6 separate regions of the Homo sapiens genome follow, and regions 1, 2, 3, 4 and 5 are each linked to region 6. The links come from fine-mapping of genetic effects on plasma protein levels. A gene starts in region 6. Each other region holds a variant in brackets. All regions are shown on one strand. Distances are from middle to middle. Region 1 overlaps THBS2 (thrombospondin 2). Region 2 has its middle 5.9 kb from the start of LINC02544. Region 3 holds the start of LOC124901470 (a long non-coding RNA gene). Region 4 overlaps LINC01615 (long intergenic non-protein coding RNA 1615). Region 5 holds the start of THBS2-AS1 (THBS2 antisense RNA 1). Region 6 holds the start of THBS2 (thrombospondin 2).

The links. PIP is the posterior inclusion probability: the model's chance that the variant is causal. The UK Biobank Pharma Proteomics Project read protein levels with antibody pairs (Olink). The fine-mapping took linkage between variants from a reference panel, not from the people measured, so its PIPs are less certain.
Region 1: its variant is fine-mapped to the plasma level of the THBS2 protein (UK Biobank, PIP 0.99). The variant lies in the coding sequence of THBS2. If it changes the protein, the assay may bind it differently, which can mimic a change of level.
Region 2: its variant is fine-mapped to the plasma level of the THBS2 protein (UK Biobank, PIP 0.97).
Region 3: its variant is fine-mapped to the plasma level of the THBS2 protein (UK Biobank, PIP 0.93).
Region 4: its variant is fine-mapped to the plasma level of the THBS2 protein (UK Biobank, PIP 0.93).
Region 5: its variant is fine-mapped to the plasma level of the THBS2 protein (UK Biobank, PIP above 0.99).

Annotation. Positions count from the first base shown.
Region 1 is chr6:169,219,251-169,224,223 of GRCh38, forward strand. THBS2 (thrombospondin 2) reads right to left here. Exons shown (of 22, transcript NM_003247.5): 18 at 3,998-4,225; 19 at 2,947-3,218; 20 at 2,180-2,277; 21 at 948-1,087. The region is part of intron 2 of THBS2-AS1 (THBS2 antisense RNA 1); the gene reads left to right. Among named protein-coding and RNA genes, the nearest start is that of THBS2-AS1, 8.5 kb to the left of the region's middle. RefSeq lists an enhancer at 4,783-4,973. The variant G/A (reference allele first, on the strand shown) is at 2,255.
Region 2 is chr6:169,186,136-169,191,207 of GRCh38, forward strand. No RefSeq gene overlaps it. Among named protein-coding and RNA genes, the nearest start is that of LINC02544, 5.9 kb to the left of the region's middle. RefSeq lists enhancers at 1,703-2,204, 2,205-2,704. The variant G/A (reference allele first, on the strand shown) is at 2,130.
Region 3 is chr6:169,225,131-169,230,202 of GRCh38, forward strand. THBS2 (thrombospondin 2) reads right to left here. Exons shown (of 22, transcript NM_003247.5): 14 at 4,442-4,549; 15 at 2,992-3,151; 16 at 1,050-1,168; 17 at 15-249. All of the region lies in intron 2 of THBS2-AS1 (THBS2 antisense RNA 1), which reads left to right. LOC124901470 (a long non-coding RNA gene) reads left to right here and starts at 221. Exons shown (of 2, transcript XR_007059889.1): 1 at 221-534; 2 at 665-824. RefSeq lists an enhancer at 1-102. The variant G/A (reference allele first, on the strand shown) is at 2,674.
Region 4 is chr6:169,155,535-169,160,606 of GRCh38, forward strand. It overlaps LINC01615 (long intergenic non-protein coding RNA 1615), which reads right to left. Exons shown (of 2, transcript NR_132623.1): 2 at 2,558-2,922. Among named protein-coding and RNA genes, the nearest start is that of LINC01615, 4.9 kb to the right of the region's middle. The variant G/A (reference allele first, on the strand shown) is at 2,787.
Region 5 is chr6:169,212,366-169,217,428 of GRCh38, forward strand. THBS2 (thrombospondin 2) reads right to left here. Exons shown (of 22, transcript NM_003247.5): 22 at 3,420-5,063. THBS2-AS1 (THBS2 antisense RNA 1) reads left to right here and starts at 847. Exons shown (of 3, transcript NR_134621.1): 1 at 847-1,213; 2 at 1,809-2,122. RefSeq lists a silencer at 586-935. The variant C/T (reference allele first, on the strand shown) is at 3,637.
Region 6 is chr6:169,250,938-169,256,009 of GRCh38, forward strand. THBS2 (thrombospondin 2) reads right to left here and starts at 2,909. Exons shown (of 22, transcript NM_003247.5): 1 at 2,787-2,909. RefSeq lists enhancers at 445-958, 1,471-1,983, 1,984-2,495.

The sequences.
Region 1 (4,973 bases), 32 kb before region 6:
TAGGTGGATGGGTGGGTGGATGGATGGATGGATGAGATAGTTGGGTGGATGGGTGGTTGGATGGATGAGATGGGTGGGTGTGTGGGTGGGTGGATGGATGGATGGTTGGGTGAATGGATGAGATGGGTGGATGAATGGATGGATGGATGGGTGGATGGATGAGATATATGGGTGGGTGGATGAATGATATGGATGGATGGGAGGAAATGAGATGCCTTGAAAGACATCCTAACATAAGGAGAAGAAAACCTCCACAGAAGCAAGCAGATAAATCAACCCCAACAGGGTTTTGCCCTGTTGGCCAGGCTGGTCTCGAACTCCTGACCTCAGGGGATCCACCCGCCTTGGCCTCCCAAAGGGCTAGGATTACAGGCATGAGCCACTGCCCCCAGCCAAACACATGATTTTCAATGTGTGATTCTTGAGAAGCATCCTGAGCCTTATTTACTGCATCTGTGGAAGGGTAATGCGCATTTGAAGGCATGGAATTAGAGCAGATGGAATTCAAGTTATCTTCCAGGTCTATAATATTTTGATTCAAATATACCTGTAGCGAGATAACTATAGAGAAACTCCTTCCTTCCTTCTTTCCTTCCTGCCTGCCTGCCATTGCTAATGCAAGGGTACCAATCTAAAATGGCGTCAGGAGCCTGGAAGTGGAGGAAATCTAGGAAACTCTAGGCTATGGCACAATGAGGATGGGTGGGACCTGTAAATAATTGGAAAGTGTTCTACCAGAGGCATCCAAATGCAATTAAAAACAAAACAATCCAAGCTGACCAAATGAAATGGCTGCTTGGAATGTGCAGGGGGCTCATGTGTGGTATTGTGCATTAGGTTTATTGCCCTGATGTACAGCTTTTGTAAGTGGAAGAGCGCACTGTGTACCCCTTTCCCTTTCTGGGTGCCACATGCCTTCCCCACTAACCTGAAGTGCTCACACTCACCTCTGCATTCGTACTTGAGGTCTGAGAAATAGACCATTTCTTGAGAGAAGACAAATAGACCCAGCCGCCCGCCAGCGTAGGTTTGGTCATAGATAGGTCCTGAGTCTGCCATGACCTGTTTTCCTTCATGCACTAAGACTCTAAAAATGGTGTTTAAAAAGAAGAAGAGGAAAGAAAGACAACATGAACTCTGTGAAGCATTCACCAGTGATGGAAGGTTGGCTCCGGACACAAGCTGTGGATACTCCGCCCAGGGCTTCAGTGCCCCAGGGGGCATTGCTGGCTTTCTCCTTTGGAGCTCCAGCCACCCCTGGTGCAGCACTGATCCAGGGCACGCCTTCCTTCTTGCAACCACACTATTGTCACAATCTGTGAGTTCACTTACAGTCACCCAGGCAAGGGCTTTAGAGGAGACTCTACCTTTGGTGGGGTGAGGAGGAAGCTTCCCACTTCCTGGGAAGATGCACCGGACTCTCCCTACTTCACCTTGTGCTAAAACCATGAGCTCACCGGCTCTCCTCCCCACTGTGGAAGCTGCGTGGGAGCAGGACTGGATACACCAAGCCCCCGACAGGAGGATGGGGCATCAATATGAATAAACAGGAGGCCCCCTAGGGAAACGTTCCAGCGAGGCCACGAGCCTGCACTTCACCCACACAGATCTGCCCTCTATTGCCAGGGACTCACACACTCCTGGCATCTGTGCAGAGTCCAGCCTGATCTTGGTGCTTATTAACTTTGAAAAAACAAAAACACCTTGATTTTAAATTGACCACATTTTGTTTGAATAAAAATCAATTATAAATACTGTTAAGCCAAGGGAAAAGATTCTGTTGGGCTAACTGTGTCAAAACTTCATACAACCGTGTTTTAAATTCAGCCATTTATATCAGGTACAAATCTAGTCTCCAATAAAGCACATGCTAATTCTGCAAAGATGCAGTTATTTTAATTGCAGGTGTTCTCCCCTGCCTGGGGTATTCATTAGGAGAAAATATGGTTATCATCCCAAAACAAAGCAGATTGTATATTCTCCTTTTCAACCATTTTTTAAAAATACTTAATATTTAGTAGAGATGCAGGATAGAAAAGAGAAAGCAGTTAATGACGAAGAATCCAGAGTAAAACAAAAAGTTAGAATTCACTTGAGCTTATTTGTCTATTAATGTTCAAATGTGCCGTCCGATGGGAAGCCCCTTGGAAGAAATGCAGCTGTGCTGACCTGCCCTCACCTGATGTAGCCAGTCTTGGGCCTGTGAGTCAGGTGCCACCTATAGGCCGTGTAGTCCTTCCAGCCAATGTTCCTG[G/A]GGTCGTGCCATAAGGTTCGCACCTGAGAGAGAACATAGCACTCTTGAGTGCCATGGGCACCCGGAGCCTTAACCACAGCTCTGTAACACCAAGCAGGAAGCAAAAACATGACTTTGCAAGTTCATGCTTAAGGCTCATGGTGCTCCATATCTCTCTGATGTGTTTATCATCCAAATCTCTACTGTGGATTGAAGCCCATGGACAGAGTGTGGCTCAGGGCTGAGAGCCAAGGCACCTGACCCTCAGATTCCTGGATTGAAGAGCCCAGGCACCTGATCCTCAGATTCCTGGGTTCATGTCTGGATCTTCTCTTTCCTTGATATGGGATGTTGGGCAAAATTCTTGAAGTTTTGATATTCAATTCTCCCTAGCTTCAATTTTTAAAATATTTTTTTCATATTATATCTTTGATCATTATGTCCTATGCTCACTCCCTATCTCCAGAAGAGGGTAAAAGAGGTTTAATTTGTAAAAGGATTAGCAACTGTATTTAACTGGTAATTATCAACTGTGTTGAGTTGTAACCCCAGGCACAGTGTCTATAATAAAGTAAGATTATTAAAATAACTGTGCCTGGAGTTAAAATTAATAAAGACAAAAGTGGGGTCTCTGGACTGGGCTAGTCCTGCTGAAACACTCTGCAGCCACAGTGGTGCAGAGGAGATGTGTGGGCCTGGCCAGCCAACCTCACCTGCCCCGGCGTGTTCCCCGTGTGCCACAGCGCGTTCCTCAGGTGCTCGCCCGTCCCCGTGGTGGAGTTCACCACCTTGAGGGACACGCCGGAGTAGCCATAGGCCCGCGTGGGCTGGTCCTCCCAGTAGGTCTGCGTCACCTGCTTCCACATCACCACATAGAAGCGGCTGCTTGACTGGTAACCAAAGACGAAGCCGGCATAGTCGTCGTCCCGGTCAGTGTTTACGTAGAATGTGCCACTGAAGTCCACAGACCCAAACTCGTCAAAACCTGGATGCAACGCCATAAGGTTTCGTTAGAAACACCTTTCAGGTGGCCGGGAGTAGTGACTCATGCCTGTAATCCCAGCACTTTGAGAGGCCGAGGTGGGCAGATCACCTGAGGTCAAGAGTTCGAGACTGGTCTGACCAATATGGTGAAACCTTGTCTCTACTAAAAATGCAAAAATTAGCCGGGCATGGTGGTGGGTACCTGTAATCCCAGCTACTCAGGAGGCTGAGGCAGGAGAATCACTTGAACCGGGGAAAAAAGGTTGCAGTGAACTGAGATTGTACCACTATACTCCAGCCTGGGGGACAAGAGCAAGACTCCATCTCAAAAAAAAAAAAAGAAAAAAAAGAAAAAAAAAAGAAACAGGTTTCAGGCAATCCCCAGCTTGGCCCTGTGACCATCTGACAGTGGATGCCCAGCAGGCAGGGCGGGCTCCCCTCATCATCCCGATGGGCTCTTTTACCATGAGATTAGTGGAATTGAAGGTATTTCTTTTAGATCCAACTTACAAGAGTTCTGAGAGGATTATGAGGTCCCATTTCATAGACCAAGTCTATAAAATAAAATGGTTTACTGAAATTTCAGAGACTTCAGAGCGGCAGGTGCATGTACCTGTCAAGGTTATTTAGGCAGACAGTTTCACAGACCATGGAAGGATGGGGGCTTCCAGAAAGACCACATGGCATCCCACCTGCATGATCTTAAAGTGCAGTCTGCATCTTCTGTGGGCGCCTCCCCCGGAGAAATGCTGGCACCACCGCCGTGTCTCAGAGACTCACCTACAGCGATGCCGGGGTCCGAGTTGGCTGTCTGAACCAGCTCCTTGCCTTGATGGCGAATGACCCAGTTGGGATCAATTTGGGTGGTCCCTTTGGGATCCAAGGGGACCATCTGGAAGTTCCTGAAGTCTGTCTCACTGATGGCATTGTTTTCAGGACACACATCATCAATATCTGGGATGTTGTCATTGTCAAAATCATCTTTACAAATATCACCCCGTCCATCACCTATGCACAAAGAACAAGCAAAAACAAAAACAAAAACAAAGAAGCAAAGTCGGTGGTCGGTGGTTTGCCATTTGCTTTTCCGTGTCTGAGAAACATGAGTGCATCTTTCCCAGAACATCTAAGACTGAGTGCTTTGCAGTGTTTTGTGGATTCGTGCTCAACAATCTCCAAAACATTTGACTTCACAGGAACCTCAACTCTTTTCACAAAATTTTTGTGATAAATACACAGCAAAGGCCAGCACAGCAAATTCACATAAAGCCATTTCTCACCGTGTTCCAAACTCAATGCTGCAGGTATAAAACCTGAATGGCTGTCAAGTAATATCAACCTGCATTTCCAGCTTTGTGTTTGGATAGTTTTCTGAATGTCTGTTATTACTTTTCTTAGTCATCCTTGCCTTTTATAGTCTATTTGGCATTAAAGCGGAACTCACACTAAAATGGTTTTTCCTAGGGAGACATGGACTTCCGCTGTTTAGTGGGTCCTTGTCAAGTTTTCAGCGGGGTTGTGGCATGGTGGGGAGTGGGGATGAGGTGGGCCTGGTGCAAACAGGGGGACCACGAATTTGCCACATGTGTCCAGTCTATCAGTCTACGGCGATGACGATAACCTGACAGGCAGATTGCAATGTACTGAATTAGCTATCACGTGGCCTGCCGTTTTGGAGGAAAGGCAAGTTGGATTGAATATCTCATCATATTCTTCAACTAGTTTCCGTTCTGTTCAAGAACATACTCCAGCTACC
Region 2 (5,072 bases), 65 kb before region 6:
GACCAAGCCTGAGTTCATGCAACACCATCAGCACACAGCCTGGTCTTGGCCTCCTCATGAGTTCTTTGCGAGGCCACGCATCCAGGTACCTGTGTTCCTGCACGGAGGCCTCTAGGTTCGCAGGAGACCCAAAGCAACGGGCCGTAGGCTCACTCAGGAGCAGCTCCTAGCTCCCCACTCCGCCACGGCCCTGCGGGAAACAGCGGAGGTAGAGATGTGGTGGTAAAGCAGAAGTGTGAGAAGCTACAGTCATTTTCCTTAGGGTTGGTAAATTTCGTGCCGGCCACCATGGCCATAGGCTTAACCCAAATTAATAAAGCCCAGTGTAAAGCGTGCTTAAGTTTATACACAAATAAAGTTAAACCCCAACTAAGCCATGAAAAGCTACCGCTAAAATAAAAACAAACTGTGAAAGTGACTTTAGTGTGTTCTGAGCATGACAGCTAAGACCCAGGCTGCGGTCAGCCACCCCCTACGCCTTGCCATGAGCTCAATAAAATGAGCAGTCACCGGCCCGAGTGCCGCCAGCAGCAGCCGGGACTGAGGGCAGCGCTTCGCTTCCTCGGAGGAGCCCACTGTGCCATCAACAAACCCTGAAGCCCCCACCGGCTGCTGCTGACCCGGCCACACGCCACCATCTTCAGCAAACCCTACGATGGCCGCAGAGTGAGCACCAGCATTTACACAAAAACATCAGGTCCAGGGGTAGCTCTGAGGTGGAAAGAAATGGACCACAGAACATTCCACCCACAACAACCTTTACGAAATTAAAGGCCAAAGGAGGATGTGGCAGAAGTTAAGAACAGACAGCGTAACTGAACAGGGCCATGACCACACACACGCCACCCACCAGCCGCCTCAACCACCTCCACGGACAGAAGCTCAGGTGTGGTGGGGGTGAGCCTGACGAGGTGGGCATCCTGGAGAGCAGGTCCGGGGAAGCCCCGTGCAGCCTCTGCACGGCACCTGCTCACACCCGGGAGACTTCACATTGACTCCACCACTCTGAACACAAACTAGTCCCAAATCAACAAAACTTAGCAATTATATGTATTTAGACCAAAACATGTATTCACAACAAAAGGTATAAGAGATAGAAATTTATTTAGGTGCTACGGGACACGTACTGTAAGAGAAAGATGACAGAATAATTTAAAGTACAAAAAAAAGCAAAGCTAATCCCTTATACCATTTGCATAATAAATTTGCTAGAATGATTTTATGAAGAGAAATTTAGCTAAAACCTCTGAAAGCAGACAAGTTACTTATGGACGGTTGCAAGAACAAACTCTCCAATGTGGCAAAACGTGAGCAGAACCAAGAGCAGAGAAAAGCCATCCCGACCTGGTGATCCTGCTTATCCAGAAGAGAATCTCAGCTCAACTTTAAATTACCCCAAGAAGTATACATCTTAATGTAAGTTTAAATGTTGATCTAAAGAGGGACAGCTCCTTAGAAACAGGAAGCAACCTTTTATCCAGAGTAATTTATTAAATTTCTGGAGTTGTTTAAAAGTAGCCACCAAATAAGAGCGTGTTCAAGTTAAACACTCAGCAGACCTTAGTTTCAGCTCTCTCTCGCCTCTCTACATTTTACTGGATTAATCTATTTATAAGTAGAAGAAATACTGTTAACACAGTAACGAAGAGCAAATTCTCCTTGTATAAGCTTGTGTTAGATCACACATCCACTGATAGGCAACAACTGGATAAAACTAAACTAATTGAACGATTGTTTATTCAAATAATTGTGAACCCAACACAGCCATGCACTTAAAAAAGATTTAAAAAGTCAAAAGAGTCGAGCAAATGTAAACCCTGCAAATGACCGCAAAGCTGCGGGCAGGCTGTCACCCTGTCCCCCCGCTCCCCGTCCCCCCTGTCACTGTCCCCCATCCCCCTGTCCCCCATCCCTGTCCCCAGTAGAAGGCCACCAGCCATGGACAGCACGTGGCTGGTGCCTCCCACAGCTGCCCGACCTCCACACAGAGGAGAGCTCTGGAGAGGGAAGAGCCTCCACCATCCAGAGCAGACAGCATGGGGCGAGGGGGCGTCTCTGGACACTCACGGAGATGAACGAGGCCTGCTGGTGAGGCTGCCTCCAGCAACAGTGAGTGAGGAGGTGCTGCC[G/A]GGGTGTTGGGGACCGCTGTAGGTGCTCTCTGAGTCACATGAGGTTTTGAAGGGTTTTGAGGAGGTGAGAAGACACTCAGAGCTTTGTTTTCAGAAGATCCCTCCAGCTGCTGGTAGAGAATGGAGGGAAGTAGGCCTGGGAGCGGGAAGCCCACTGCCTCTGCCCCAAGCTGCAGAGTGGCCATGGGGTTGGAGGGAAGGAAACTGAGCCCCAGTGTCCCAGGAGGCCTTGGAGACTGGCTGGATTGGAGGGGAGGGAGGGAGAATGCCAGAGGAAGACTGACAGCTCAGTCTGGAGACAGGTGAGCAGTGGGTTTGCAGCTGTTCCCTGCAGTGCTACCCACAAGGGTCCCCAGCGACAGCAAAGCATGACACCAAGGAAGCTCACATTTTGAGAATTTTACTTATAAATATCAAAACCACATGGACTCTGGTGACGTCATAATTCACGGTAAACCTCAGCTTTTAAACCAGAGGCTCAGACAATGGTGTGAGTCGCTGACTCACTCGGCAGCTGCAAAGTAAGGGGCGAGCTTGTTTTCCTTGAGCACCTGCTTAGGAGTCCTTTCACAGAGGTTTTTTTTTTTTTGGAGATGGAGTCTCATTGTGTCACCCAGGCTGGAGTGCAGTGGTGCCATCTCAGCTCACTGCAACCTCCACCTCCCAGGTTCAAATAATTCTCCTGTCTCAGCCTCCTAAGTAGCTGGGATAACAGGCATGCACCACCACACCTGGCTGATTTTTGTATTTTTAGTAGAGACCGGGTTTCACTATATTGGTCAGGCTGGTCTTGAACTCCTAACCTCAGGTGACCCACCTGCCTCAGCCTCCCAAAGTGCTGGGATTATAGACATGAGCTACCACGCCCAGCCAGGAGTCCTTTCACAGAAGTTCTGTTTCACAGTAGCACATGGTATACATTGTGGGGCTAGAACGAAGAAAGTGCAACGTTTCCCATATTTTTTGTCTGTTGGAAATGTTACACTAGACACACATCAATTAAGGTGACAGAAAAACTTGTGCAGCCTCCTGGAACAGTGAGCCTTTTTCCTTCTCGATCACTGGGAATAGACATCAATGGGGTTTTGCATATTTCCCTCTCACAGAAATCCTACTGGGCACTTCAGCGTAGCTTACACAGAAAGGCAGGTGCTGCACTCATCACCGAGGGCAAAGAGACACTCACAATGGCAGCTGAGCCGCGGGTGGGGTGTGCTGGGCAGAGCATCAGCTCCTGGGCTAGGGAGCGCAGGGGTGCAGGAGTTGATTTGGGATCCCATAGCTTCACTGGAACACTTTGTAAACTGCAAAATTGTATTTTTTGCAAGGTGGAATTTATTTACTCCTTTCATTTTCTGGGCTTCATTATTCAAATAATTAGTTAAGAGGATCAAAATATGTGTGTGATACTCAGCACATCAGACAATATTCTGCTTCTCATGGGCAAACACAGGGGTGTGAAATTCCTTATCGTTAATAAAAGCAGCTCTGTGGGACCCGTTACGTCCCCAAGCCGGAGCACCACGCTCCTGTGTGGCCTTCCCTTGTGGTTGTCGAATGTTGTCGTTGTTTGCCAAATGTTGGAATGCTTCTCTGTAAAAGAGTTTCTGGGAAAGTACCAAATCCTGAGCCCTGAATTCGTCCCTACTCTATTCACATCCTCCTCACTCCTCAGGACCTGTGAGCCTCAGAGCCACCAGGCAGGGCCTTAGCCTGCATTGTCAACACCACAGCCCCCTACCTAGAGAGTCTCTGGGATGCCACAGGCATGAACAAAATATGGCAGAAGGGTTGAGTGAGTGAATTAATACATTTTCATGATTATTTGACTTCAAAATATTTTCTAAGGCCACATGCAGTTACTCCCTCACTGTGGGATTCATCCACCTTCATAATACTCAACCCCACCCTCCCACACACACAGCAAGGCTTCCTAGGACAGGCTGAGCATCAAGCTTGGGGCTGCCCCATCTCCAGCTTCCCAAGCCCTGAAGCTCAGACATGAATGCTCTGGTCCTGCCCAGTGTCTCCCGGGCCCTGATTTGCACCAGTCCCAAACAAAGCCCTGCACCTCCCGGCCCTTCCCCCGGGCAGTTCCCTCTCCCCCATCAGTGGACCTCAGCACCGCGCCAGACATGCCTGTGGGAGCCCTGTGTGCAGCCAAAAGCAGCCCAACCGTAGGAATCTGAGTTCTTCCTGCCTTGGGTCATCGTTATCGAGCTTTTCTGGGAAATTTGGGATCTTAGTGTCTGGCAAAATTTATATTACTTATTTAAGGCAAGTGTTGCAATTTTCCATTTCATAATCAAGTAAAAGCTAGACATATTCTTACTAGCCATTAAGAGAACCACAAATGATTTGCTAATTTTTTTCAAAGAAATATTTTTATTTCATATGTTGGCACAAAATGTAATAGTTATTTCTGGGTTTGGAGCTTTCCCTGAATAAGAATTCTGGATTTAAAATGTTGAAGACTATTTCAATTTTAAAACTAAAAGAAAATATGCAGAACACTATGAAAAGTTTAATACTGCATAACTTAATGTTATTAAAATGTGTAAAACTTGCAGCATATTAAACTATAAGAGAAACCCAAACTCAAAAAAAGCTACACAAAAGTGGCTACAACTAAAATGGACCTAACATAACTCAAAAATTTCTACTTCTGGCCATAAAACAGTAGATACGGTCTCTGAAACCCCAATGTGGCCCTGATAACAGTCAGTGTGGAGTTGTTAGCATACCAAGAGGAATTCAGCGAAGGGAGGACAGAAAAGCCATCACACTGGTCACCCACTGTGGGCCTCCTGAAATTCTCACCCTGTCTCTGCAGACCTGCCGCACAGATGAGAAAACTGAGTTTCCAGAGAGCTGAATGATTTGGAGTCACACAGACCTACAGCGCGTGTCCCAACCCTGTGCCTCTCATTACATAATAGTGCC
Region 3 (5,072 bases), 26 kb before region 6:
GAGAGAGCACCCACCGTCCAAGTCCTCCTGGTCTGGGTTGAACACAAGCCGGCAGTTGTCCCTGTCATCGGGGACGCCATCGTTGTCATCATCAGGGTCACAGGCGTCGCCCTGGCCGTCTCTGTCATGGTCAGCCTGGTTGGCGTTGGAGATGTAGGGGCAGTTGTCCTGGTTGTTCTGGTGGCCGTCGTCATCTATGTCCTCGTTGTTGTCACACTGGTCCCCAACAAGGTCATTGTCCACGTCGGTCTAGGGGATGGGGCGTGAGAGAAACAGCAGAGGACTGCCAGTTTGAGGAGGTGGAGAGGAACCAGCAGGACGCAAGCCTGAGAGCCGGCCTCCTCGTCCTGCAGCACAAGCCCCAGGGCCACGCAGGGGCGGCTGGCCCGAGGTCACACTGACCCTGACGTCAGGACAAGCACTGGGGCCAGGCCTCTCGGTCCAGGAATCTCTCCACCCTCTGCCACCTCTCCACAGTAATTCACTTCACTAAAGGAAGATGTGCTTCTTCGCTGGAAAAGCATGAACTACCAGGTAATTATGTCTCTTTTTTACACCATTTGCGCCATTTACACCATTTACATCATAGGATAATATATCCTATGAGCTGCATCAAGATAACTGTCCTCCCTTGTCTCTTTCAAACGCAAACCTGGAAATGAAGCCAATTCCTATGTTGGCATCAGGAAAATGGGGAGAGAATTCTGTGAAGACACAACCTCGCTCCAGCTGATGAGGTGAAGGCGTCTATTCATTTGGCCTGTGGCCACTGAGATACAAGAATAGTGCTGAGATTTGAGTTGAATAAATGTTTTCAATTGAAATCATTGAAAACTCCATGTTATCCTGTCTTTGTGGAGCTCATGGAAAACTCCCAAGGCCCCATGGAGGGGACTGATGAGGACCTGAGACCCGCCTGCCCATGGCTGCCCTCATCTGGTCAGGGTTGTGCACCAGGGGCAGTTGTCACAGTGATCCCCCACACCGCCACCGTCCCCGCGTCCCTCTGATGAGGACCTCCAACCCCGCCTGTCTGCGGCTGCCCTCACCTGGTCAGGGTTGTGCACCAGGGGGCAGTTGTCACAGTGATCCCCCACACCGTCACCATCCGTGTCCCTCTGGTCAGTGTTGTAGACGTAGGGACAATTGTCTCGTTCATTGAAGACATCTGTAAGTGTTTAAAGGGGGAAGAAAACAAAAACAAACCAGAAGGACAGGTGAGTTTAGAAAAAGCACATTGTTTTTCCTATCACACGAAATTGCTTACAGCCACACTTCTATTTAATTATAATAAAAAGACGCCTAAGAATATAGTAAAATATAAAGACTATTAGATTTTAGAAGAACATATGACATATTTCATTACAGTTCAAATACCTTTCATTTGAAATAGAACCAACTTTTGGAGATTTCTGGGTAATGTTGCAGGAGGGGTAGTTGAATGTGCTGTCGCCGTGTAAATCTGAGCTTGCTAAATTGCTTATTTCTCCCTAATACCCACTTGGAAAGTATGTGTTGAGTTCCCAGGAGTTTATCATCCATGCACATGAGTAGGAAAAAAACAATGGCAGAGAGTGGCAGGGTTTTTAGATGTCATATCTTATCTTAAGAAATCTGAAAGTGATGAGTTGCATTGATACTGAAGTTACAAAAATATAAACTAGCACTGAACTAAACAATACCATCAGTGACAGTGTCACAAATGACAGAGCAAAATGTTACACGGCAGCGAGTCCACAGGAAGAGCCAGAACTGAGCTGAGACGCTCGCCTTGCTTTGGTCAGGTGAGGTCTGGAGAAGGGAAGTAAGGAACACCTAAAAAATAAAAATGGAAGGGACTGGAGCTTGAGATCTGCATCCAGCACATCACAGACGCCATCCTGGATGGGGAGCCGAGGAGCCCCCTGGCCACCACGAGCCCTCAGACAGCAACCCACCACATTCCCAGAGAACGAGAGGAGGGTGGAGGCAGAAATCAGTGGAAAAGATCAGACTGAGAAACCCGCTGTGAGACAGAACAGCAGGTTGGGGTGGCTCAGAAAGGGGGTGGCTGGCGCCGGGCTGGGAAGAGGACCCCACGAGGCGAAGTGTGGAGGAGCTGGGGCCGAGCTCCAGCGTGGAGGCGAGCCTGCCCCCAGCTCTTGCTGGTTCTACAGAAGCACTCGCCTGGTCTCCAGGCACCCCAAGAGAAGGGATGACCATGCGGTGACAGTGGCACTGGGTTGCAGAGCTCGCTTACCAAGGCCAGCGAACTCTCCGGATAAAGCAGCAACCGGGATCAGTGGCAGAGGTAACCACAATACACCCACGTTATTCTAACTCCTAGAAGCTCAGTTTGATGAAAACATGAAATGGCTTCTTGGAATTTTTGAATGAAGGGTGAACATTAGAAAAGATGCCATGAAGAAGCACGAGGCCCAGGACTGCAAGGCTGGGGTCAGAGAGAGGAGGATACCAAATGCATAGCTTTCTCTAGGGCGGTCCTGTGGCTGGTGTCCCCTGACCTTCAGGAAAAGGCAAGGCAGAATAAGCATGGGTCCCTATGGGAATAACTGAATGAATCATTTAATCTTATAGTAGTGTAAAAATGAAAGGAGCTTATCAAAATTCAGAATAAAACATGAAACTTGCCAATGCCTCCAATTGCGACCCTTAAAATGCATGCATTGGGCC[G/A]GGCGCGGTGGCTCACGCCTGTAATCCCAGCACTTTGGGAGGCCAAGGCAGGCGGATCATTTGAGGTCAGGAGCTTGAGACCAGCCTGGCCAACATGGTGAAACCTCGTCTCTACTTAAAATACAAAATTAGCTAGGCGTGGTGGTGTGCACCTGTGATCCCAGCTACTCAGGAGGCTGAAGCAGGAGACTCACTTGAACCCAAAAGGTGGAGATCGCAGTGAGCCAAGATGGTGCTACTGCCCTGGGCAACAATAGTGAAACTCCATCTCAAAAAAAAAAAAAAAGTGCACGCATGGGAAGGAGCAGAAGCACCCACCGTCCCCATCAATGTCCACGGAGCAGGCGTCACCCTCTCCATTGTTGTCTGTGTCGATCTGGGCAGGGTTGTGCACGTAAGGGCAGTTGTCACAGCGGTCCCCAACCTCATCCTTGTCATAGTCAGCCTGGCGGGGATTGAAGAGGAGCTGGCAGTTGTCCTGGAAAACCAAGAAAGGGAAGACTTTAACGAAGATCATAGGAATGTGTGTCGGGCCGTTTAGCACTTATAAGTTATGTACTCAAGGTTGATGAAAATCAATATAGAAATCAAACAAACACAAAAGCCAGTTAGGGCTGGACGGTGGCTCACACCTTTAATCACAGCTGGGCACTGTGGCTCACACCTGTAATCCCAGCACTTCAAAAAGCCAGTCAGGGCAGGGCACGGAGGCTCACACCTTTAATCCCAGCACTATGGGAGGCTGAGGCGGGCGGATCACCTGAGGTCAGGAGTTCAAGACCAGGGCCGGGCGCAGTGGCTCACACCTTTAATCCCAGTGCTTTAAAAAGCCAGTTAGGCCCGGGCACAGTGGCTCACACCATTAATCCCAGCACTTTGGGAGGCCAAGGCAGGCGGGTCACCTGAGGTCAGGAGTTCGAGACCAGCCTGGCCAACATGGTGAAACCCCATCTCTCCTAAAAATACAAAAATGAGCCGGGCGTGGTGGTGTGCGCCTGTAATGCCAGTTACTCAGGAGACTGAGGCAAGAGAATCGCTTGAACCCAGAAGATGGAGATTGCAGTGAGCCAAGATCATGCCATTGCACTCAAGCCTGAGCGACCAAAAAAAAAAAAAAAAAGAGTTAGCCCTCGCCAAACACTTTTTCCATATCAAATCATTTTATCATTATTTATGCATCTGTCTTTTGTTGAAAATTTGTAGATTGCTAAGGCAAAAATGGTATATCATACACTTCATGGTGAGGAGAGATATGTAAATATCAAATAAATGAATGGATTAGTGAGTCAATGTCTCCCATCAAAGTCAGATGTAAAAAAGCAGTGAGTAAAATCTTGATCTATTCTTGCTAGAGCTGTTTTGTGTACAAATACATTAAACCATTTGTGTTTGCAGCAATTTTCTTAGAAAAATGGTAATATTTTAAATGTTGCCATAAAGGCAAGTCTATCACTCATGGTGGTGTCAGCCTTGCCCATCACTGGCTCCTCAGCAGAAGGAGAGGAGGTCTTCTATTTTTTTGCAGTTAAAATAGAAAAAATTATTCAAAACATTTCCGGCAGCACACCCTGGGCAGCCCCATGCACTGAGGTAAAATCCGCTTTTGCAAAGGACTGTCTTTATAGTGACCTTTGGGAACTGCCTATGCACAAACGCTTGCAGGACAATGGCAGTTACGTTGACAAGGGCTGTTTGGTATAAAGTGGCCTCCTGTGGACCTCGCTGCTCCTGGAACCCAGGGCAGGTGCGCGGCACAAGCTGCTCCTACCTTCTCATCGGTCACACCGTCATTGTCATCGTCATCATCACAGGCATCGCCAATCCCGTCCTTGTCAAAGTCTTCCTGCCCAGAATTTGGCAGATGGGGGCAGTTATCCTGCAATTGGAGAAGGAAGAATACTTGGAAAAACATTTAGGAAAGCGCCTCTTTCAGGAATGCAGGTGAAATGAAACCAGCATGGCGCCGAGGAAGGAAGCGTGCCCCATCAGTCCTCGATCTCAAGCGGGAGCTGAGAGAGGAGCCAGGAGGCCAGAAGCGCATGAATTTCTTCTCAACTCCTGCCCTGGAAATTATGTCACCACTACTCACGAGGGAGACAAAAGAAACTTGTGTTCGGAGCCCAGAATCCCAGTGAGGTTGCCAAACAACTGCAGAAACAAGAAGAGAATGACAAGGTATTGCTCTGAGAGAACATGGGAGAGAAAAGAGGCTTTAGTGGTGCTTTCCTTCCCACAGACTTCAGCTCATAAATCAAAATGCCAAAGCTTATAAACGTTTAACCCTCACCAGTCAAAAAATCTCAAAGAAAAGAGTCTTTCAAATATGTATGTGATATGTTCAGAAACCAGGGCTGAGAACTTGAAATTATCTGCTAACTCAGCTTTTCACGGTGAGTGGG
Region 4 (5,072 bases), 95 kb before region 6:
GATCCCAGGGGACAGAGTTCCAGGAAGAGGGGAAAGCAGTGCCGAGGCCTCTAGGCAGGAACACCCATGGGTGTGTTCAAGGGGGAGCGAGGAGCCAGGGTGGCACAGCCTTCATGATGGAAGGAACTCCCCATGGAGAGGAAGGAGAGGAATAGGACAGCCATGGGAGAGCCACTGCACTCACTCAGGTGGGCAGTGATGGCGGCTCCACCAGGGCGTCACCAAGGAGGGAAGGAGGTGTGTCTGGACATGCACTAGGAGGGTAATTGGACGGACTGGATGTGATGTGTAAGATAAGGGAGAATTCAGGGGCTCTTCAAGGTTTTCGGCCTAAGCAACAGAAAGGACGGCATTGCCCTCACCTGAGGTGGGGTGGCTGCAGGTGAGGACGGATTGGAAAGGGAGATCAAGAGCTCAGTTTGGACATTTTGAATTATCCATGTCTACTGAGAGGAGAGGTTCGGTGGACAGACCCTATATGAGTTTTGGGGTCGGGGAGTGGTCTGAACCTGAGGTATGAATTTCGGAGTCAGAGGTGTGAGGATGGTGTTTAAAGCCATGTGGACAGAGAAGAGGAGTAAATCCGGGAATGAGTCTGTGGTTCCTTCGATATTCAGAAGCTGGGAACAGAGGGATTAGCAGAGGCAGCTGAGAACCAAAGAGCGGGACCCTAGAGGCCAAGTGAAGAGCAAGGAGTGAGCTGAAGACGCTGTCGGAGTTTCCCTGTGTGCTGACAGGCCCGTGGAAGGGGACTGAGAGGCACCGCCGGGATCACCCGAGTGCTGCCCCCACAGACACAGAGTGGTATGGACTAAATGGTGGGGGTGACGGCTGATGGGAGTGGGTGCAGAGCAATGGGGACGTAGCTTACTGACAGCATGGGTTGGGAGAATCTGTTCTGTTTTGTTTTAAGATGGGTGAAATCACATGTCTATCTGCTGTTGGGAATGACCTGGCATCCGTGGTTCATTTTCCTTTGTTGGTAACAGGCTCCCAGGGTGCTGTACACACACCCCTCCCTCGTGCATTTCAGAGGCTCCTCACCAGGCTTGTGATTCACATCCTTGAAGCAGGAAAGGCATGGATGGTCGTTTGATGCAATCAGCCACATAGTGCTATCTGGGAGTGACGGCCGGCGTCCAAGACAGTCTTCCCAGGTCCTGGCCTGCTGTGGCTCTCCCTGCTCCAGCCTGCCTGCCTCATGCTGGGGTCTGTGTGCTCAGAATATGGCAAAAGGGGGGTGTGGGCTTCTGAGACCAGGCCACAAGTGGCCGCAGCTTCCTGCCAGGCAAATCCTTGCCCTCCTGGATCACTCACTTGGGAAGCTGAGGTTTCTGATGGCCGCAGGAGTGTGCTTGGAAGCCTCACCTCCAGTCCCATCCAGTCTTCAGATAACTGCAGACCCAAGGGACCCCCTGAGCCTCAGCCAGCTAGTCAGCCAGCTAGGCTGCTTCTCAACTTCTGAGCCCAGAAACTGTGTGAGATGAGAAAGGGTTGTTTAATCAGCTAAAGTTGGAGGTGAATGGTTATGCTGCAATAGATAACCAATTCTCAGGGACAGATAGGCTTGGTAGACTGGAGATCTTGTCAACCTGAAGCACATGTTTTCTTTGAGGCTAGTTTCTACCAAGAAAAAACAGAGATGGAAGATTCTAGACCACTCAGTGCCAACTTTTTTGTATGTTTTATTTCTGTGTCCTTGCGGAGGTCACTCAGGCAAAAGCAGTGGTCTCTTGGCCGTTTACACACATATGACAGCATGTTTATCACACACTTGGTTACTCTCTGCAATGCTCCCTGTGGCTGGCACTATTCACCGTTTACGTCCTCACCACCCCATCAGGAAGACATGTAGGTTTAATCCCTACAGCCAGAGATTTCTGCAACGCCAGGGCACAAGCTTCTTACGTCGTCTTTGAAGGAGCACAGATGATTTAAAAGAAAATAACACTAATAGCCAACAACCGGGGACCCCTTCCTGCCTTATGGAAGCTTCCCCCACAGAGAATCCCATTTAATATTCATAGGAAGCCAATGAGGCCTCTGTGGCTCCCACTGGCCTGACAAGGAAGAAGAGGCCCCGGAGGGCACGGAGCCCGCCTGGAGTCAAAAAGCCAGAGACTGCAATGATCCCAGTTGCAAAGCTGGCACAACAGGCTGTACCCTTTTATGGGAGGGTCACTGCCATGCAGGAGAGGGGAGCAGTGTGGGTTGTGTGAGATTTCCTAGAGGTGCCTCTCGCCATGGCCCTGCCAGCACCTCTGGTGGTTCAATTATCACCGAGGAACGGCTCCAAGTCTGAAGGGTTTTTTGAACCTTTTCCCTGCTTTTCTTGCAATGAGAACTCTGAATGAGGGGCAGAGGAGAAGCAGATGCCAAATCGCCGAGAAGCACTCCAAGCCCTCTGGCAATGGAGTTCCGAGAAGAAAGAATGGGGCGCAGTTTCCAGGTTCTGCCTGCCCCTCCTACCCCAGCACTTCCCTCCCGCCCTGAACTCCTTCCACAGGAAAGGCTATGAAGCCCACCATCCCTGTCTGAGGTAGACCGGGCAGAAAACACGCAGGTTTTGTTGCGAAGTGGAATGTGCTAGTGTGCTGTCTGCTCAACCAGTGTCTTCTGCTTTGATTTCATTTTTATTTTTTTAAGAAGAAAATAAAAATCTCAAAGACTAAGTTCTCATACTGTAATTCCTGGAAATCATTCTGGAGTCAAATACTTTTGTCTGTTAAGAAAAAAAATAAAATGTAGAGATTTCCTGCTGCTCCGGGAGTGTCGCCAGCAGACAG[G/A]GGTTTCAGGCTCCCCCTGCCAGAACTTCTGAGCAACGTGGCAGCTGCCGGGACCGGGCCTCTGAGTGCAGAGAGCAGGCGTTGCCAGGAGCGGACTCAGACAGTGGAGGCCCCTCGCTGACCCTCTCCGGGGCCACTGCAAAGGAAGAAGAAAAGCACAGGCATCAGCTTCAACAATGCAAAACAAAGTAAGCTTGAATTCAGATGAGGGGCAGTTAAAATCGCAGCCTAGAAGTCCAAGTGTGGTTTGTAACACTCCAAACCCCATGTCAGCCTTCAGTGATTGTTCTGCTGACCATGTTGCTACAGAGCGGCTTGGGTTTTTCCTTGTGGCAACTCCCCAGGGTGACAGATTATTCGGCAATGTCACCATTTTGTAGATGTATTCGGGATTTCCAGCCATAAGCCATGGATGATATTGGGGATCCTTTATTCCTGGTGGGTGCCCATAAGAGTTTGCAAACTATACCCAAAAGGGCACGGGAACCCCTAAACTTTCCAGGCTGTCTTGGCACACGGCTCACTAGAACTGTTAACGCCGTCAAAGTATCTCTGACACGTCCTTAGCCTGTGTTTGAAAACCTGCAGAGATGGGATACGCCCCTTTACCAGAGACAGTGCATTCCGTCCACTGGGAGTGACACACGGCCAAGCCAGGCTTCAAAGAGAGAGGTTCACCGTATTCCAGTAGTGACTACTGGGATTTAGGGTTGGATCACCTTACCAGAGCTTGGAAGCTGCTAGAAGTTAACATTAATTTTATTGTTCTTTAAAATGAAAGTCCAGCAGGAGGGCCAGGATTTGGGCATCTCGGTCCTTCACGAAAAGAAAGGGTGATGTTGATTAGCCATGTTCCACATCCCCCGAGTTAAATATAGGAATAGTTCTGACATCTGACTCAAGAATGTGTTTTCTTGCATGATATTAAGGCAGATGCACAGATCCACGTAGATTAATCCCCTTCACTAGTAGCAGGGGCCCGATGAGGTAGCTGATGAGGAAGAGCCCCCGAGACCAGGCCCAGCGTGGGGCCACGGCCTTGGGATCTGGACGACACCCCAGCGGTTCTGTGCCGCCAGCAGGCCCTGCCGCATCTCTGGGCTGGAGCCCTGACTGTCAGCAGATGAGGCCATGGGTTGGGGTGTCTCTCCCACCAGAACGGCTTCGTGGGGTGCTCACTATCCCCTGGTCATGCTTCGGCACAGCTGGCACCGGCTCCCTGAGGGCCCACTGATTGGTTTTACACAAGTCTGTGAAGCTTCCCACAATGCACGATGTCCTTAGCAAATACAACACAGCCCGCTGGTATCGCCTCTTCCTTCACTACCTCCACAACCACTTGTGGCAGAGGAGGAGCCTCCAGTTGCACTTGGCCAAGGCGGCTTTTGTAAGAACTTGACGGGACCAAGCCACCCCCACGGCATCATTTCCACGGGAGAACACATCCCAGCGAAACTCCAAGGAAAGGGTAGTTTTGTGAAGAAAATGCTTGTGTTCTAGGACACAGCCCAGCAAGTCCCTGACTTTAAAAAATGTGTAAGAAACAGGAATGTAACATTGACGAAACATGCCTGCCAAGATGGACTTTCCTTGTGGCGAGACCCTTCCTTCTCCTCAATGCCTGGGTGCTAGCAGGGTAGCATCCCCAGCCTCAGAGCTCAAGCGTCATGATTGGGGAAATGAGACTGGGCAGCCATTCGGAAGGCCGGGCAAAGAAGAGTGTAAAGAGACATTGGTCTCGTGCTGCAGAATGAGTTACAAATAGTGAATCCTCAGCAATACTGTCTCCCCGTGGACTGGAATTTGGACCCGCTGCTGTGGCGGGCAGCTTTGACCCAATGAGGACCACGCCTGGAAGGATGTCAGAGCAGCAGGGACCTGGGTGGAGTGACCTGGTGGAACGGAGACGCCTGCCGGCTCAGCAGCCACAGCAGCAGCTGCCCGTCATGGGACAGCAACGTGGCAAGAATTCCCCACGGGTTCCGGGGGAGCCTGTGTTGCTGGACCCTTTGCCACACCACCGAACCTGGCCCAGAGGAGCAGGAATTGGCCGAGTTCCAGGCCCTGCACCTGACGGGGGCTTCCTCAGCCTCTCATGTGATCCTCGCAGCAGGCTAACGTGCAGGCCCTTCTGTTTTCCAGATTTGACAGTTGAGAGGGGAAAGCCATGTTTTCAAATGTTACAGTAGAAGAGGCAGGATGCAAATCCAGCCCTGGCTGGTGCTGAAGCTGGGGCAGGTGCATCTGCAGGGTGCTGCCTTCAAGGCAGAGGGGTGACTGCTGTGT
Region 5 (5,063 bases), 39 kb before region 6:
ATAATGAATTAGAATTAAATCTTCCAAACTATACACGAGGGTGTCTTTCCATTTATATAGGTTTTAATTTATTTTGGCATTGTTTTTCTGTTTTCATAGTACAAGTCTTCTGCCTCCCAAGTTACATTTATTACGAGGTATTTTATTGTTTTGTATGTTATTGCAAATGGTATTGTACTTTTAACTTCCGTTTTAAATTGTTTCTGTCTGGTATACAGACGCACAACTGATTTCCATGTGTTGATCTTGTTCTCTGACACTTTGCCAACTTTTCCACTTCTTTAAAATCCAGAATAAGTATGGCCTGAGACAAGGGAGGTTTGTGTATTCATGATGCATATGTATAGTCACGTGTATGTTGCTTGCGTATATACCATTCAATAATCAATACATAAATATAAATAATATGTATCTCCATTTTAACAACTGTAATTTATTCCTAAAGCCATATTTAAAAATAATTACATTTTTAAATGGGAAAAGTCGTATGAAGAATTCTGTCCCACCTCAAGATAACTAAACAATTTTTCAGTAGAAAAATAAATCTAAAAACAGAAAAAATATTTTAAAAGTAAATAAATCGTACATAAAACGAAGCGCAATCGAGTTTTGTTGCACTAATGCTTTCTTCCTCTTTCTACACCATTTTGTTTGCAGAATCGGCCTTTTGAAGGTTCCGGGTTACCCTGCAGTGAAGCTGTCATTCAAGCACAGTCAGGGCCCAGGAGAGGGCGCAGGGAGGGCGCAGGCGCGCAGGGAGGGCTGGGCATGCGCTCGGCGGGGCCTCCGGCTCTCGGGGACGCGCGCGGGCGGGGCTCGCCGGGGCTGAACCGGCTGAGCTTCCCAGGGACGCCCCGACCCAAGCCCTGCAGTCCGCGCGCGTCAGGGGTGTGCGCTGGAGGCCGGAAAGTCGAATATCACTTCCCATCCTGCATTTGATGTGCTTTGGGGTTGAAAAAGCCCTTATGTGGTAAAAAAAAAAAAAAAAAAAAAGTCAGAAAAGTGGCAAAAGTCTTCAACGGCCTGAAAAAGGCCGAGACAGGAACTGAGAAGCTGGCAGTAGGTCCTGCTACTGCTGCAGGGGCGGCGGGCGCCCTGGGTGGGCCACGAGGCAGGGACAGCCGAGGCTCCGCGCTCACCCCACCCGCAAGGGGCCAAGCGCAGACTCAGGGGAGCCAGAGGGGCCGGACCGCTGAGCAAGGGCTGGGGAAGGGTGAGTCAGGGGCCCCTGTGGGACTGCACGGGGTGGGGGGCACGGGCCCGGACCTCTCTCACAAATGCCCACGTGGTCCCCAAGGCTAACGCCGGCTGCGTGGGCCGCAAGCTGCTCTGGGCCCGCAGCTCACTCCCCTGGGCACAGGGCTGACACCCGGGCGAAGCAGGAGTGTCCCAGCTTGCTTCAGCCCCTCCCCTGGGCCCCCAGGCTGGTGGCTCCAGAAGGACTTTACTAAGAGGGTGGGAAGCATCAGTGCAGGTACCTGCCCTGGGCTAAGGGCCTCGTGTGGGTGATAGCCCTCAGCAGGGCCCTCCCATTTGGGCATTGGCAGCCCACAGGGCTGTGGCCGTGGAGCTGGAGTGGCAGCTCCTGGATCACCCCACACCTGCGTTCCTCAAGGCCTAGGCACCACTTGCTCCATGGTCAAAAGCATCACTTTGTGAAACGCAGACTGAGCAAAGCTGGCCTAAGATTTTGGTCCTCCAGGAATGACGGAAGGAGCCCTCTGCCCCCATGTAGCCTATAGCTGGGACACGCAGCAGCCAGTGAGTTGGTCACGGTATGAAGGCTTCTCTCCTCCCGGCAATCACAGATCCCACGCTTGGATACTTGGGAGTGAAGATGTGTTATTTCACCCACCGACTCGTTCCACACGACCAAGGCCTGTGCCTGCCCTGAGGGCGAGTTGGTTGAGCCTTGTACAGACAACTCTCAGAGCGTGGGCCTGGGCCGAACCTTTCCCTGTGAGCAGCAGCATCAGCGTCTAGAACGACGGCCCTCCCGGTCCACGGTGGAAGGTGCGGAGCTCCCGTGGTGTGCTGGCAGCGATTCGCAGAAGGGAGATGGAGGGCCACAGGGCAGGTGCTCGCACGGAGTCATCGAGGTCCAGGGACACCTTCCTCCCAGGTGAGCTCACAAAGGCACCACACATTAATCCTGGGAGACAACCATTCTGATGTGGCTAAGGCCATCGACAGGGAACATGATTGTCAGGAAACCTCAACTTTTCGATAAATGACAGCAAAACCTGAATGCAGGAGAAATGTATCTCATTTTAATGCCTGACTTCTAAGCATCCTTATTCAACATATTATATGTATTTTTTGTTTCATGAGTAAAATGTACATTGAGCTTCCTCCAGTAGCTGTCCATAGACCAGCCACTATCACTGCCATCATTATTTTGTTTCTAAACTTTTCTTTTTACACATGTAGGTCTAGCTTTTTCCTCCATATTGATGAACTAAAACTCACTCATTTCACAACTCAAAGCCAGGGCCTTCAGTTCACAGCCCGTTGCCTCAGACGGCCTTTCCTATATCTTATTGCTTCACTGTCTGACTCACTCCAGCGTGTTTCAGCCAAGTATACTTGTTTTTATTCATCTTGCTCTCTTTTCCTCCCTCCCCCAACTCCCCCTCTTTCCCTCTGTCTCTTTGTCTCTTTCTCTCTCCCCCATCCCTCCCTCTCTTCCCCTTTCTCTCTGGATGCCCTCTCTCCCTCTCTCCCTCCCTCTCTTCCCCTTTCTCTCTGGATGCCCTCTCTCCCTCTCTCCCTCCCTCTCTTCCCCTTTCTCTCTGGATGCCCTCTCTCCCTCTCTCCCTGTTTTTCTTCTCTGTGTCTGCCTGCATAATATTCAGAAATCCCAACAAGAGCAGCTGGAGCTGCTAAAGAAACCCCAGCGTTCTGTGCTGCTGCCATTGCCTCCTCCAACTGGTGAGCCCGATCGGCCCATTTTTAGGCAGTGCTGTGGTTGGAAATGGGCCCTTCCTCTGGGGTCCGCTACTTCCCTCCACCTGACTCAGAAGAATGAGTCAAGAGGGAAGAACAGCTCGTATTAGGGAGAGGGTCCCGTGTGCTGTTGCCTTTTTCGGAATCATTTCAATCATGTTTGCCAAATTCCCTACGAAGTTCTGTTCCCTCGTTTGACAATGAGCAGAGGCAGGAGAGATGAATTGCTAAATGGTTGTATCCCACACCGTGCTGGGAGGCTCAGCAGAACAGAGACCTGTGTCAAGCAGGGCTTCCTTCTCCACCAGGCCCTTCAGCCTGCATTTTAACCTGTGACTTGCGAGGAGATAGCCCGTGATCACACCACAGGCCTACTTACATGACAGGAAGCAAAATGCCAATTCCTTCTACCCCTTTCCCCCACCCCGGTAGAAACCCTGCTAGTTCTTTTTAAAAAAGGGAGAGAGATCATGTATAGAAAACCTTTTTTACAATTTATTTCCTGTTGTTAATCTTTAAAAATGAGGTTCTAGCTAAGTGCAGGGTTTCAGTGGTGAAATTTTGACCATGTGAACACATAAATAAATATTTACAGTCTTTGGCAAAACACATGACGTTTCATCAACCTATACGATAAATTTGTTTAGAAAAACATAAATAATTTACAAAAAATATGGTACATTCTAAATA[C/T]TCACATCATCGTCACTCCCACACCATTGTACGGTTGACCCCACAACACAGAAACAGAAAACCTGCACGCTGTTGACAGTCGCTACATTTAATGAAGTATCCCAACGCTTCGTTGGTCTCGGGAATACAGCTCCACACGCAAAAAAGTAAAAAGTGCAGCAAAACAACAACACAACGATCAACCTCAAAGGAAACAACAAAATTAATTTTATCAAAATGCAATGTGTACATTAAGACTAAAGTTATGGATTGTTCCTGTTTGGCATAGAAATGTGATGACTATTAACAGAAAGGGGAAAAAGATTTGCCCCCTATCCATCATCAGACAGACAGACTTCTCTTACTAAACCCCTTATGTGGAGTGGGATGAGTGACTATTTCCTGCAGAAAGATCATGCAACTTAAAGCAAAAAAACAAACCAACCAACAAAAAAAACAAAAACAAAAACAAACTTGTGCATATTACACATGACTGATTATTGGGTGTGCCTGGCAAGACTAAATGCTGATTCTTTTCAGCGTTTGAATTAAAAGAATTCCATATACAGCAGATAGATAACAGTAACAAATATTGAACTAAAATCGCTGGCAACATTATATATTTAAGGTTCCATCATAAACTCCTCATTATTCTCTATGTATTCTGTTACAGCTTCTAGCATGCTTCATCGTGACAACCTAATATTATCAAGCCTCATATTTTCACAGGATTATATACTTATTAGATGTTTGTTTCTAGAAATTATACTACATATGTGTTACTAGGCATATTTAAAATAAGTTACTGGTAAATGGAGTTGCATTCTATAGTCACTTAATAAATATTAACAAAATATTTATAACTGGAACCTTAATGAAATGTATCATCAAATCAGGTAAAAGCAACTTGTCCGCAGTTACCAAAGCCTAGATACGCGTTAGATGCGCCTTTTCCGGCCTGTGCGTCTGCTCTGGTTCCTCTCAGGCAGCAAAGCTGGGGAAGGAAGCTCAGGCAGGAGCCTCCCCGACGCCACAGCGGCACAAGCAGCAGCTAAAGCACCGCACTTTGCTCTGCTAACCTTTTACTTAAATGAGGTTTTGCCAAATCCACATCTGGAACCGCGTCACACCCATTTGCAAGGATGTTTGTTCTTTGATGAAACTGCATCTCTACTGCACATGAGGGCTTTCATTGTAGGACAAGAGGAGAGTTCGTTTATTTTTGTAACTGTTTTACATGTTCCGATTAGTTAATCGGTAGCTTATGTCATTTGCTATGCCTGTTGTCTTCTAATCTCTCCTTACTAAAACATTACTTCAAATTTGAATTGACCCTTGTTTATAATTTATTTAATGGGATTTGTGTGTCATTGTAGAGCAACTCTAATTCAAGAATAGTGACAACTTTAAGCACCAAAAGTAGTTCAGCAATATTTTTCATGCTTAAT
Region 6 (5,072 bases):
GTGGCAAACTGAGAGCGAAGGAGGAAATTTACTCTTCAAGCAGGATTCTTCTAACTATAAGATTTGTTGAGCTAGCATTTGCCGGCAAGCACTGCACATCACGTTCTAAATATTCCTATTATTTCATCTTCATAATAGCCTGGGAGGTATGTGCTGCTCTAATTGTCCTCATTTTACAGATGAGCAAATGGAAGATGGGCAAGTTCAGCGCTTGCCTGGAGTAATTCTGTTCATACGACTCGTAGACAGGACTTAGATGTAGAAAGTTTGAATTTAGAAAAATATCCAGCCTGACAAAAATAATCTGTGAACGCATTTTGTGTAAATATCCAGCAAAAAACAGTTATGCATAACCTAATTAAATAGAATGAATATCAACTGTAAAAAAAAGTTACAAATAAACTTAATTTGGTGAATTATACTTACAAAACAACAGAACACTTGACTTAGCCATCATTTTGACCCTGCCTCTTTATTTTCCTGCAGGCCTGTTTTTCCATTCTTGGGGATTTTAAGTTGGCACAGCTCAGTGGAGGCTGGCCCCGAAGTCAGGAGATGTGGTCCAAAGCCCGGCTGGGCGATTAACCCTGTGGATCTCAGCTTCTCCTCTTCCGGGCGAGCATGAGCCTGAGGGTCCCAGGGCTCCCCAGGTCCCTTCCAGCAATTGGTCACACCCTGCTCTAGGTTGAAGGGAAGACTGAGACCCCAATTCTTCCCATATTTAGAATATCAAAGGCCGTTAACTTCTCATTGTTAATCCAAGGACTCTCCCTCTCCAGAAACAACATTTGGTAACCTGGAAATCCTCACCTTCCAGGAATAGAGAAACATTCCTCAGAAGAAGAGAAATGCTTGGCAGCACCTGCAGACCCCCCACCCATCTGCTGCTGGGACCCCCCCCCCAAACCATCTGCTCCCCCCAGTGCCGCCCCAGGGGTCCTTGGTGATTGTTTCATCTGTCCTGGCTCCGGAAGCAGCACGGCCTGCGGCCGGAGTCAGCACCAGGCTGAGCAATGCTGAGCACCAGCTGTGCAACCTAGGGAAACTTACTTAACTTCTCTGTCTCAGTTTCCTCATCCGTAGAATGAAACGTAGCGTCATGTAAAATGCCCACCTCATCGGGTTGTCATGAGAGATGAATTCGGCAAATGAAACTTCACCAGGGGCTGACTTAGCCCAGCGAGCCACAGGCATGGGTTACCGGAGCAGAATGTGCCTCTGGGTCTGGGGCGCTTTCTACTCTAACTGCCCGAGGCAGCTGCAGTAATAATGGTGGTGCTGATAGGGCCTTTCTATGGAGCTCTTAAGAGGGTTTAATGACAGGAGCGAACACTTGGCCATGAGCTTAGAACAGTACCTGCATGCAGTAAGCACCACAGAACGGTGTTAGAATACACAGCTCAGGTACAGCCTTGGCAGGCTCTTCCCACCTCCCCACCTCATCAGCCCACACTGCCGGGTACGTCGCAGTCCCCTAAGGACAGCTGTGTGGGGCTGGCCCTGCAGAGGCCAGCCAAGAACAGGATGGTAAATGCGAAAGTTCTGGATGCCCAGCTTCATAAGGACAGGTTAGAAAAACTAAATCAAACTCCTTTGACGAAACCAGATCCTACTGTCTCTGCCTTGAGGTAGATTCTTACAAGAGCAGGAGGCTAACAAAGCATCCCCTGCTGCGGATTGTCAAAGGACAGTGAGGCTCCATCCCACAGGAAGGATGAGCAGCCAGGCTACCTGGCCTCAGCCCATCCAGGGACACCGGGCATGCATGGATGGAGCCACGGATGAGCCAGTGCCGCTCACCCCTGCCCCAGCCTCTGCACGCCACACATCCACGTTTATGCTTGTGTTTTTCCAAAAGAAAGATTTCGGTGCCTGTCTGCAGCAGAATGTAGTTTGAATTTGCAAAGGTCTTTTAAAACTCTTTTCGTATGAACAATCAAAGTAAAAGATAGCTTTGCAGAGAGCTAATTGTTTACCGGCCGTCCACCACCAACAGCAGTCTGATTAAACACCAGACTCCTGGGTGCTCAGCTCCCAGTCCTGGGCAGCCAAACCCACCTTCCTTAAGTGGTAGCCAGGCAACCTGCCAGCTCGCTTTTCATATGCAAACTGCCCCAAGACTGTTAAAAGTCGCTGTGTGTCCCGGCAGTCACAGGATTTTCCATAGACTTACCACAAATACTCTCTAGTTATGTTCAAAACCACTTTTCAGCTGCTAATAATGTTAACAATCAGAGTCTCTCTTTAATCTACTAATAATGTTAACAATCAGAGTCTCTCTTTAATCTACTAATAATGTTAACGATCAGAGTCTCTCTCTAATCTACTAATAATGATGTTAACAATCAGAGTCTCTCTCTAATCTCCAGTTACTTTTCAGATATTCCGGGAGTTGTTTCTAATTCTCTCCTCAATAACAAACTCTCATGTGGAATCTTCTTCTTCGGAAACTGAAAACATAAAGCGTTTACCCGGGTTCCCAGGCAGGTATATACATTGAAATAGCAGCAGCCACAACCCTCAGAGAGGAAGGGGTGCCCGGCTGGTGAAAGCACAGCCACGGAGGAAAAGCTGAGGAGCGGCCACGTGCCTTGCTCTTCAAGCGGGCAGTAGAAACACCACGTGAAGAAACACTTGCCATTTAGTGTTAATAGATACACCACCCACCTTAAGTTAAGAATCGAAATTGCTCCTTTTTCTTCTCCGCTTCTTAGAGTTCGAGAACTCTAATTTCTTAAAATTAGAGCACCATTAAATAATTGATTGAGTTTAAGAAATAATCGTACCTGGTTTGCCAAAAAGATGCAGTGATGACTGGTTTCAGTGTTCCGGACCGAGTCAGAAAGGCGCAGGCTCTGCTGGAGCGAGAGACCGGCCCTGCAGTGCAGGATGCTCCGGTGGACGTGGCCGAGCGGCTCCCGGGCAGCGCGGCTTTATATGCCGCTTCTCCTGTGCAGGGCTGTCAATCAGACACACGAGGAAGCACGTTTAATTCATTCCTTCGAAGGAATGACATCATCCCCCTTCTGATCTCACCATTTGCTCCGAGTACCTGCTGCAGGGGTCCAAGTCCAGCCCCTCTGTACTGGATGCCGTCTCCTCCTCCTGCACCCCGGCCCCTGCCAGACAGGCCTGGGAGGAGCCAGACGGAGAGAGGGAAGGCAGGGACTCACTTTTCCTGTCTTCTCTCAGGAAATAAGATGCTATAAATAACACTAGCAAGATTGGCTAGAACTCCTCATTTTGCTTAAGAGAAAAAAATGCAAGTTCTATGCCTTAAATATGTTTCGAATTACTCAATGTGATATTGGTCTTTCTAAACCAAATGAGTGACTCTCAATAACACATGAAATACATCGGTGAGTATCAATAATCAGTCTGTATATTAATAAAGTTATTATGGTCAATAATCAAGTGTATTATGTGACAAAAATGAAATTTAATATAAAAGGAAGTTGCCAACATTTATCTCAGGCAGTTAGAGGACTGAAAAGCTGTACTGCAGCTTTGGGAAAATTCATTTTTACCCAAATTCTGCTTCATTTGCTCAGTGAGGATCCCCTAGAAGGACGTCTCCCAGTGGACGTGCAATACCCGTAGAAGGGTGTGTCCCAGTGGACGTACAGTACCCGGCCAAGTCCCCTTGGTGCACACTTGCACGTGGCCCCATCACAGGAACAACCTGACGTGCAGGCACAGAGCAAGGACTCGAGAGAACGAGAAGCAGTGGCAGCAGCTAACCCCCGCCCCTCCCACACCTCAGGCATCACCCGCAATCAGGGTGCACTCTGCATGGGGGTGGGGGGCACCGCTTCTCAGAGGTCAGGGTGGACGATGGATGCGGAGGGGCTGCTTCTCCCAGGTCAGGGTATACAGTGGAAAGGGGAAGCTGCTGCTCTAAGGTGGGGGTTGATGGTACATGGGGGAGGGGCTGCTTCTCCCAAGTTGGGCTGGACAGTGGATGGGGGAGGTGCCACTTCTCCCAGGCCAGTGTGAAAGGTGGATGGTGGAGAGGCTGTTTCTCCCAGGTCAGTGTGCAAGGTGGCTGGGGATGTGTTGTTTCTCCCAGGTCAGGGTTAATGGCAGACAGGGGAGCTGCTGCTTCTCCTGGGTTGGGGTGGACCTTGGATGGGGGAGGTGCTACTTCCCCAGGTGGGGTGGATGGTGACTGGGGAGCTGCTGCTTTGCCCGGAGCCACCTGCACCTGCTTCATGTCGGCACCTGCCTGTCAGGTTCCTTCACGTTTGTGTGGAGTTGTCAGCCTGGCCATGGATCCGTCAAGTCCTAGTTAGAGAACATTAAAGCGAATTTCTGTGGACACAACCCTTACTGTGTCTGTGGCAGGGGAGTGTCTCTTAAGCCTCCTGGCATTCCCCCACAGGGGTCCAGCGCTGCAGAGGTCGGCAGGCACCATGAAGAGCAAGCCTCACTTTCTGGCCTCTGTCTTCAGGGAGGATATGCGAGCGGGTGTGGGAGAGGGAAGGAGCTTTCATTTGTGAAAACCTCTGTTTTTCCTAATGGCACCTGTTTATTTATCACTTGGCAAACATCAGTTTCCGACACATGCACAGACAAAAGCCTCCAAGAGTGTATGTGTCATGTTTAAGGTACGTTATTTTGCTTTTTAAGCTATTAGGGACAAAGTCATCATTTGAATTAAAAAGTAGTTTAAATAGATTGATGTTATCTCAAATTCAAAAAAAGTATAAACCAGTTCCCCTTAAAGAATTTTCAGTGGATAATTATCCATTCATCAGTTTGAGTTTTTCTGCCTCCAGGTTAGTTTTTCCTGGGGCCAGAACATGGAGGGCGGCATCCCCTACTCTGCGTGCCACGGCCTCTCCTGTTCCTCAGTCCACAGAATGCGTGTTTCCTGATTAAAGCTGAAGACAGGCAGCTCAGCTGCTCAGCACTTCAGGAGCATGCGGTGAAGACCGTGACACTCACTGGGGAGCAGGAAGGTATGTATTCATGACTCCACGTGCCGATGGGCAGGTACAGAGAAGATGGGCCTCCTTCTGTAAAATCTGGCAGCCCAGAATCAGGGAAGTCTGTTTAGAGGAGACAGAAGG